3 separate regions of the Homo sapiens genome follow, and regions 2 and 3 are each reported to be linked to region 1. Evidence: microRNA targets listed by miRTarBase, many of them from high-throughput screens and not tested one by one. Region 1 holds a microRNA gene; each other region holds the end of a gene's coding sequence.

Region 1 (3,258 bases):
TTTCAAACACTAAACCATAATCTCTCTCTCTTTCTCATGGATTTTAAAAATTCCATTAATACAATAAACACAAAAGGGATGTTTGTGTTAAACATAAAAGTAACCCCTCTTGGAGGCAAAGAGAGGACTGCTGAAGGCCCAGCATTTTATCTCTGAACAGTTTCATGCTTTTTCTAATGCATGCTAAATCCTCAAAGAAAGTTGTGGTTTTTCTCTAAGGGAAGTAATATTCCACCCTGCTGATATGGTTAACAACCAGCTTCTACGGCCATCATCTTTTAAGCAGGGAGCAAAAGACAAATTGTTGAATTCGTACATTAAATAACATAATGGAGTAAGTGGATGCAGACCTATCTCTACTGCCATATGCTCCAATATCAAGGTTGCCATTTCAAACCCTTTTGACAAGTGCCTTTTTACATTAATCACAGCTAAGGGTCTGAAGAGGAAAGACGTATTCTGGCTACAATTCAGAGTCGCTCAAGAAACTTCTAGGGGGAAAATGGTTGCCATTAAAACATAGTAAGTAGAGCATAAGTACTTCACATTAAAATTGAGTTCTCTATAATCCCCTGTAAACTTTTTATTATTATTATTCTGAACATGTAGGTACAGTGGTGATAGGTATCTTTCAAAAAATAAGCACACACACAGCCAAGCTGAGCCAAATATTATACTAAAGTCATATGTGGTATTGGTGTATGTAAAAATTAGGGCTAATTTAAAACTCTTCCAGTTCTGTACTTAGGGATGGAACTAGCCTGAGTTAAGGTCATGTGGCATTCAGGAAAGAACCCTATCCTTCTAGTGCCAGAAGTCAAAGTTGTGATTCTTATGAAACTAGTCACCTTTTCCCCTCTGGGCCTGTTTCCTCATCCATGAAAGAAAGCCATAAACTATACTCAGCCATTGTTCATTTGAAGTAGGAACTACATTCCCTTGGAGAGCTTGTTTAAAACACATTCCCAAGCCCCACACCCAAAAATTATGAATCAGTAGATTTGAGACAGAGCCAGGGAGTCCACAGTTAACCAACATTCTACACTATTACAATGAGAACCCATGGTCTACCTCATTGATAAGACTCCCTCCTCCTCTATAATCTGACAGATCTATCAATTCTCAAGATTCATACACTATTTAAGTCATCATAGTGACTGTGAGTCAACAACAACAACAAAATGGCTCAAGGCTGGCAGATATTTAGCGTAAGATATTAACCATCTGTCACACACACTAACTAAATCAACAGAGGGGCCAACTGAGATGTTTCCAATTATCTGCTAGAAAAAGTATTTTCAACTGGGTAGAATAAATCATTATTAGCCTTTCATAATATCAAAAGTAGGTCAATTAAAATGGTGTTTAGAGGCATATAGCAGACTGTGGCCACTCTCCAGATGTGTAAGCTTGCTTTAATCATCTGCTGTGTGTTAATTATTGTTAACTTTCATTACCACTAGAGAATACAACTAATGTTTTAAAATTCTTAAAGCATTACAGAGTCCTAATTCACTCTCTAAATGCAAATATAATATCTATATTGTTTTCAAAAACCTATTTCCTAAGCTAGTTTCCTTAGACGGATATTATCGAAAATTTTCTTGCAAAAGCATTAACATACATTTAACCCTACTTAAATGCTTCAAGAGCAGATGTACTACAAATGTACACCCACAGTGATCCCATATTAGTATAAAACTGTTTTATTTCAATTAAAATGTCTAAGTATCCACCCCCAACATATACCTAAACTGTAATTTTCTCTGAGAATTTCCAATATGTTCTTGATTTTGTTTCCTTTATCAACCTATCAGAGCAAAAACTGCCTTGCAACTGTTGGAAGAAATCAGTCATTAGCAGCAAGATTACAGCAAATTTTCCAATTTAGAAAAACTGTATTTTTATCTCTCTCTTATACCAGAAGAAGAATGGTATAATTTTCCTATCTTTAAATAAGCAGTACAGTTAGTTTAAAATAGTCAAATTTTCCTAGGACTCTAAGTTTCAGGATTTTATGTTAGCTTTCTGTTCTCTACACCTTCTTTCCTACTCACAAGTTCTCTTCACCCTTCATCATGCATGCACATGAACATGCACATACACACACACACATGCACACACAAACACACAGGTGCACATGCACACACAGGGACAGCAGCCCCCAGTCCAGTCTCTCCACTCCCTGACAGGCTTCTAAGGAACAGTTAACCTTCAGGCAGTAGTTAACTAAGGAGTGGCTTCACATGGTTATTTTGATTTGCTCTCCAACTGACATTCTTCCACCTTCTCAACAGGTCTGCCTTCTTTTCTCCCCCTCTCTATTTTTAAAATGGAGTGATGAAGTAGCAAAAAGTACAATATTTTAGCCATTTGAGCACGGGCGATTCTTAAATTATCCCACCAACTGGAAGTGCTCTCTGATACTACTATCTTTCAAAATTGAAGCCATTATGGTCAATCGTGCAAATCCGTATTTAGCTTTTCGTAAATAGTGGATTTTTGACCCAATGAACTGGAACAGTTTCTGGACAGTCTCTAGGATCTCTGAAAAGATACTCAGTACCCAGGCATGCCACAATTCTTATCAACATAGAGACTATTTACTTTCAAAACTCATACTGTTCTTATTCGAAATTCTTACTCTCTATTTGGGATGTAAGCATGTATAAGAGAATATACTCAGCCCCCTCTTTACCTCTCATAAAATAAAATCAAATCTACTGCAGGGCAATATTTTTCTTTCATCAAAATGACACATTATTTTTGTGAAACACCAAAATCAGAACCAATATTAATGAAGAACTTTCCCCAAGTAACGTTTCTTCTGATTCTTCACCACCTTCTCCCTCAGCTATCTTTTCGAATATTTCATTTTCGAAGTGTCTTTACAAAGACAGTAACAAATGACCTTCCTTTCCAGCAAGCTTAAAAATGATGGGTAAAGTCTGCCTTCTTCCAATCCAATACCAGCATTCCTCTAGCTTTATATATTTAATATTAAATTTGAGTGCTTAACTTCGAAACTTCTCATTTCCATACTTTTAACTCCCATCATTTTCTGCAACCTGAATCGAAGTGACTGAGTGGGTGTTTCCACACATTTCCTAATGTCATCTAGCCTACCCATTTTCCCAAAGCACACCAATTTCATCATAGCAGGTGTTCCTGGACACAATCTAAGTTGAACTCAGAAAGGGTCCCTCCAAACAATTACATCCACATCAGAGAATTAACTAACTGAGGACTCGCTTAGAA
Region 2 (3,216 bases), not on the chromosome of region 1:
AGCTCTGCTTGTTAGCATACTACTTAAATATAACTAGAATGATTCAAAACTCGGGTTCTGTGATATGAGGATATAGATAGGTTTTCATCTATTTCCTGGCTTATAACTCCCAAAACCCTTGTTTTAGGCTTTTGTTATAATGTTGGGCACTTCGGGCCTCAGAAAACAGCAGGCTGTTTCTCAGATCTTCTCCTGACCTCCTTTCACCTGCTGCTTTTTCTCCCCAAGGCAGGCCATAGAAACTAAAAGTATAATCTTCCTTTGCCCGTCTTCCAGTTGGCCATAAAAAGAATCCTCTGACCTACCTTGTCTGATTTTAGGTCATGAGACCCCCATTTCAGAAGGGATTCTGCCCCATACCTGAGAGGAAGAAATGTAGACAGGCCTTGTTGGACTTCCCCACTCCATCTGTATTAGATTATGCCTCTTTTGTCCAATCCCATTTCTCCAGTGTTGTCCATGCTTCAATCATCCCTATCCAATGAGGTCTCCATAAAAGGCCCAAGAAGACAGGTTTAGAGAGCTTTCGGAGAACAGAACACTTGGCTTTGCAAAGTGGCACGCCTGGAGAGAACTTGGAAGCTCCACGCCCCTTCTATACCTCACCCTATGCATCTCTTCAGCTGTATCTTTTGTGATATCCTTTATAATAAACCAGTAAACGGACCTAAGTGTTCCTCTGAGTTCTGCAAGCTGCTCCAGCAAATTAAAAAGAAGGGGTCAGCCAGGTGCGGTGGCTCACACCTGTAACCCCAGCACTTTGGGAGGCCAAGGCGGGCAGATCACAAGGTCAGGAGAGCGAGACCATCCTGGCTAACACAGTGAAACTCTGTCTCTATTAAAAAATAGAAGAAATTAGCCGGGTGTGGTGGCGGGCACCTGTAGTCCCAGCTACTCGGGAGGCTGAGGCAGGAGAAGAATGGCGTGAACCCGCGAGGCAGAGCTTGCAGTGAGCCGAGATGGCACCACTGCACTCCAGCCTGGGCGACAGAGTGAGACTCCATCTCAAAAAAAAAAAAAAAAAAAGAAGGGGTCATGGGAACTTGAAGCTCAGAAGTTCTGGAGGCTTGGACTTGTGAATGTTGTCTAATGGGGGTGGGAGCAGTCTTGTGGGACTGAGCCCCAAACCTGTGGAATCTGTTGCTATCTCCAGGTAGATAGTGTTCGAAGAGAATTGGAGGACAGGCAGCTGGTGTCTGCTGCAGAACTGACTGCTTGCTTAGTGTGGGGAGAAACCCTCATAACGTTTGATCACAGAAGTCTTATGTGTTTATTGTTATTGAGTGAGAGAACACAAAAACACCTTGAGTTTTTCCCTCAGGTTCCTTACGTGAAAAGATTATAAAGGGATCCTTGGTGCCATAAGGTTTGGGGCCATGCACAATGGCTGATGCCTGTAGTCCCAACACTTTGGGAGGCGGAGGCAGGAGGATCACTTGAGCCCAGGAGTTCAAGACTGGCCTGGGCGCGGTGGCTCACGCCAGCACTTTGGGAGGCCACGGCGGGTGGATTACTTGAGGTCAAGAGTTTGAGACCAGCCTGGCCAACATGGTGAAACTCCGTCTTTTCTAAAAATATAAAACTAGCTGGATGTGGTGGTCCATGCCTGTAATCCCAGCTACTTGGGAGGCTGAGGCAGGGAGAATTACTTGAACCAGGAGGTGGAAGGTGCAGTGAGCCAAGATCACACCAGTGCACTCCAGCCTGGGCAACAACAGCGAGACTCCATCTCAAAAAAAAGAAAAGAAAAAAAGACCAGCCTGGGCAATGGAGAGACGCCATCTCTATTTAAAAAAAAAAAAAAAGTATGGGAGTCCTCAGTGATCATACCTATAGATTCCAAACCCCTTCTCCATCATTTGGATTGCCCTGGGAAGCACAAGAGAAGACCACCATCCAAACAGAGATCAGTTCTTGAACCTGTGTTGATGTTTATTCTGCCACTGAGAGGTACACCAGGGTTTCCAAAGACAGTAGGAATATTTCTGTTCTCTGTGTATATTGAACAGCTGTGCACCTAAGCAGGGTGCCTGAGTAGGAAGTTAATTTCATTTTAAGGGCTGGAGCTTGTTACAAGTAGCGGAGCCAAGCCTTTGCACATCCATTTTCTTCAGAACCCAAGGAAAACTAGCCCATCTTGACAGCTCTACTTTTGCGCCTGTTAGTGCTGCCCTGATCCCTGACAGGAAGAGCTGGCTAATTTTAGATAATCTGTGCCCTGACACTGAAGTGTCTAATCATAGGGGCTATAGAAACAACTACATTAACAAGTCGTCCAGCCTCATGCCCAATGTCACAATTTTTGAACAGATGGCCTCCTTCCTTCCTGTTTACTGACATGCAAGGCTCTGAGAAAAATAATTCAATCCAATTTACAGCAAACACCACATTTCAAGAAAAGGGAAAGAACAGGTGATGTGTATACCAAGGTCCCACTTGCTCAGGCAAAAAGAGGCTGCAGAAAATTGGTTCATCAATGGAATTCTATCACAAAGTGACCATTGTATAGTGAGTTTATTTGTGCTCTAAAATAGTATCAACGTGCATCTTTCCACTGAATGACTTCATGGATCGTGGCCAACATAGAACTTGGATAGGAAATCCTTTGGCCTTGGCGCTTCTGTTTCATGGAAGAACCGCATAACATGTGTCCGCTGCTTCCATACTTTAATTGTTTCTTCCAGTTCGATCTTTCCCTGAACAGTGAGGAGAGAGGTCATCAGTCAAAGTTGTCAAGTTGAAGGCATATGACACTGAAGGCCAGGATTCTATTCTCTGCTCAGCATGGACTTGTTGAATGACCTTGGGCAAGTAACTACTCTGTCTGGGCAAAGTTTCTATGTCTGGACAATGAGGTGGTCAGGGTAAATCATTTCTGACACTTTTCAGATTCTTTAACTCTGTGGTTAACTGGTACCAAGAGGAGAAACATACAGGTTAACAGGCTCCTATCCCATGACTACCTAACCTGACTGGCTTAACTTATGTTTCTGCTTATCATTTCTTCTGTTACTGACTGGTCTATGCTGAAGCTCCCATTGATGCTAACGTGACTGGCCAGGGGGACAGAATCAGCCCCAGGATTTGAGTCCATTTATACAGGACTCATAACCACCCTAACTGCCTCTTCCAGCTGTAAACTGGCATTCAGATGAAGTGGTAACTTCTAGGGATGAGGTTCAAGAAGAGTTCAAACTTTCCTCCCTATATCTTTTT
Region 3 (3,258 bases), not on the chromosome of region 1:
AGGGCCAAGTTGAGAAGGCCCACGGTTCTCACAGATGCCTTCGTTCCATGGTAGTCAGTACTGACCCAATGCTTCCATCTCAGGAGAGGCTGAGGGCATCACACGAAGCCAGCGCAACATCGCCTGGTTAGTCAGTTTGCCATGGGGCTGGTAGAGGAAGCACGGGGTGATCTCATCCTACATTCTGCTTCCCTTTCTTCCCTGGATGACTTGTGGAGCACTGAGGGGTCCCTCAAGAATGTGGCTGAGCACAGCAGGGAGAGCAGGGCTAGAAGAGATGATGAATTACTGAGGCATTTCAGCACCTTGGCTCTGTCTCTCTTCCCCTCCAGGGAGGAGCTGTCATAAACAGAGATACCAAGCGGTGTCTGGAGATGAAGAAGGATCTTTTGGGTAGCCACGTGCTTGTGCTCCAGACCTGTAGCACGCAAGTGTGGGAAATCCAGCACACTGTCAGAGACTGGGGTCAGACCAACAGCCAGTGATCCTCAGATGGTGCTGGATCTGGGTCATCAATTCTTGCAAGTGGAATGGCTTCTACTCCTAACACTCCCAGCTTCTTTCTCAATGAGAAAGAAAGCATGTGTATGTCTGTTTATGGCGACTTCAGGTGGGGCCTGTGCGTGTGCCGGGGTGTCTCTGTTGGAGAGAGGAGAGGAAGCTCTGATGCCTCGTCCCCAGCTTCCCTGGGAAGGTCGTGATATATATCAAATGCCATTCTTGGAAACTCCTTGAAATAACCAGCATCTTTTGGCTGTTACGTGGGGAGAGAAGGAGGAGGTTGGAAGTTTATCTTTGACTTCTGCCCACGATGTTTAGCCTTCCTTCCCGACAGCTACTGTCGCCATCTGCCCCACACCTCCTCCCCAGCTCATCTGCTTGGGGACTCCCCAGGCTGCCGGGGGCCATTCCACGTGAGAGGCTGGGCCCTCCTCAGGCCGGCAGCATGACACCTCTTCAGGTAGCACTAATTCTCCCTCCTGCCTGGACTGTCCTGAGAGATGCAGAAAATAGATAAGTGACTTTTAAACATTCCTCCATTCATCCTTCCATGGCAGTTTTATTTGGATGATCAGTCTCTCCCACACCAAAGAGATTCTGGAGGCTGAGGGGAGGAGAGAAGGCACCTCGACTCATCACAGCTGTCCAGGGGACAGTGTGTTGAGAAGGGTAAGAAAATCCAGGGCCATCAAAGCCTTTCTCTTAGTAGGTCATAACATTTAATGACTTAATTACCTATTCCCTCCTCCTACTCTTGCAAATTATGGAGAAGATGAGGCTTGAATCAGAGGGGCATCGCTTGTTGTGGGCAAAGAAGAGATTGCAGGCAAAATCTTAAAACCAGGGATTCTACGGCTGCCCACTGGATAAATATTTTCTGCTAGTTGGTGAGTTGGGAAGATATAGCTCAGCCTGCCAATTTTTGGCAAGGTCTTGGAGGCTGGTGGGACCAGGCACCATGGTGGGAGAGGAGGTAGGATGGTCCTGTGCGTGTGGTGTGTTGTGGGATTACCCTTCAAGCATGTGCTCCCAGAACCCCTTCTTCAGAGGGCCACTTTTCTCTCTTAGTCCCGTGTCAGGGCTGCCTGGAAATGATTTGGGGAATCATTAGGTTTTCTTCAGGCCTTAGGCAAGCAGGACAGTGATAATTTGGTACAGAATTTAATCAATTAAAACTTATAAAAATGAACTTTTAAAAGTGTACAGGTTATAGATAGCTTGATTAAAATTTCACTATGAACACTGCCATATCAAGAACTAAAACTACTGCAGATACGATTTTATTATGAAAAAATCAAGGGACAAGATGAATGTTAAGCAAATGTATAACTTCTAGCTTCTGCCTGGCAAATTGAAGGGAAAATGCAGTTCACAGCAAAGTTTCGAAAAAGCATGTACCCAATAGAAAGTTGGATAAAAGACACAATACTTAAACATATGAAAAGATGTTTAACCTCATTCGTAGTTAGAGAAATGCAAATTAAAACTGTATTGAGATACTTTTCACTTAAATTGGTAAAAATTAAAAAGTAAGACAGCACATTCTTTTGGAAGGGCTGTGAGAAACAGGCAATCTTATACATAAGGCAAACTGGGGATATTTAGCAATATCTAAAGAAACTGTATGTACATTTTCTATTTGTGCCAGTAATTCCACCTCTAGAGATTTACCTTAAAAATAAGAAAATACTTAGCACAAAGTGACTCTTTGCAGTATTCATTGTAACTGAGAAATGTTGAAAAAAAAAAAGATGTGGCTGAACATCAGAGAATAATTGAATACCTCCATATAATGGAGTACTATGCAGCTATGATAAAGAACAAAGACTCTTTCTCTGAACTGATATGGGGTGATTTCCAGTATCTTTTGTTAAGCGGGAAAAGAAAAATAGTATCTATACTATGTACCTTTTAGGTAAGAAATAAGAGAAAAATATACCTGCATCTGTTCATTTCTGCAAAGTAAAACATAAGAAGAATAAATAAGAAAATAATGAGATTGGTTACAATAGGTGGTGGTGGTTGGAAATAGGGCAGAAATAATTGGGAATAGGAACGGGATAGAAGGGATGTGGGGAGAGTGACATTTCTCTAACTATATTTTCTATAGTTTTGACTTCTAGAACCGTGTTATGTTTCAAATGCTTAAAATATAAATCTATAAAATCAATAAAGATAGAAACCCAAAATGGAGTATAAACAAAAATAAGTGAACCTAACTATATTTCCATATTGTAAATGAACACATACACACTCACTCATGCACACACACATTGATCACACCTAACATGCAGCACGCAGATCTTGTTTCTAAATATTTTCCAGTGAAAGGAATTACAAGCCTTTGGAGAAATAGCTAATTTTAGGGCTGGGGCTGGGATATCTTTCTATTTTAGAAAGTTATAAACTGCTCAGAAAATTATGGGGACCTGTCACAAACCACAATGGTCAGGTTGAAGGGGCTTCCACTGGCCAAATCTGGGACAATTTGAGTATTAAAATAAATAACGGTAATTTTAATTGAGTGATTGGCGTTAACATCATCAGTTGTCGGACAAACGGATATCATGGGCCTCCTGATATAATGCAAGAAGAACACAATATCACTTCTATGGTTTTCCTGCCAAAATACAGAACCTGAACCTATAATCTTGAGGAGACATCAATCAAACCCAAATTGAGGGACATTCTTCAAAAGAAATGGTCTGTATGCTTCAAAAATATCAACTCATGGAAGACAAGACTGAGGAAGTGTTC

Evidence for each region. Region 1 holds the annotated microRNA hsa-miR-591 (AGACCAUGGGUUCUCAUUGU, at 1,050-1,069, opposite strand). A microRNA usually pairs through its seed, bases 2 to 8, with sites in the 3' UTR of a target mRNA and lowers its output. Matches are read on the target gene's strand: a 7mer-m8 pairs with bases 2 to 8, a 7mer-A1 pairs with bases 2 to 7 and ends in A, and an 8mer does both.
Region 2: miRTarBase lists NDUFA6 as a target of hsa-miR-591. Seed matches in the 3' UTR shown: 7mer-A1 at 2,496-2,502.
Region 3: miRTarBase lists GALNT8 as a target of hsa-miR-591. The part of its 3' UTR that is shown has no 7-base or 8-base seed match.

What each region holds. Positions count from the first base shown.
Region 1 is chr7:96,218,673-96,221,930 of GRCh38, forward strand. MIR591 (microRNA 591) reads right to left here and starts at 1,084; the gene lies at 990-1,084. All of the region lies in intron 4 of SLC25A13 (solute carrier family 25 member 13), which reads right to left.
Region 2 is chr22:42,083,619-42,086,834 of GRCh38, forward strand. It overlaps NDUFA6 (NADH:ubiquinone oxidoreductase subunit A6), which reads right to left. Exons shown (of 3, transcript NM_002490.6): 3 at 1,908-2,696. The coding sequence ends at 2,565. SMDT1 (single-pass membrane protein with aspartate rich tail 1) reads left to right here. Exons shown (of 3, transcript NM_033318.5): 3 at 1-666. Among named protein-coding and RNA genes, the nearest start is that of SMDT1, 5.5 kb to the left of the region's middle.
Region 3 is chr12:4,772,113-4,775,370 of GRCh38, forward strand. GALNT8 (polypeptide N-acetylgalactosaminyltransferase 8) reads left to right here. Exons shown (of 11, transcript NM_017417.2): 11 at 333-614. The coding sequence ends at 485. Among named protein-coding and RNA genes, the nearest start is that of KCNA6, 36 kb to the right of the region's middle.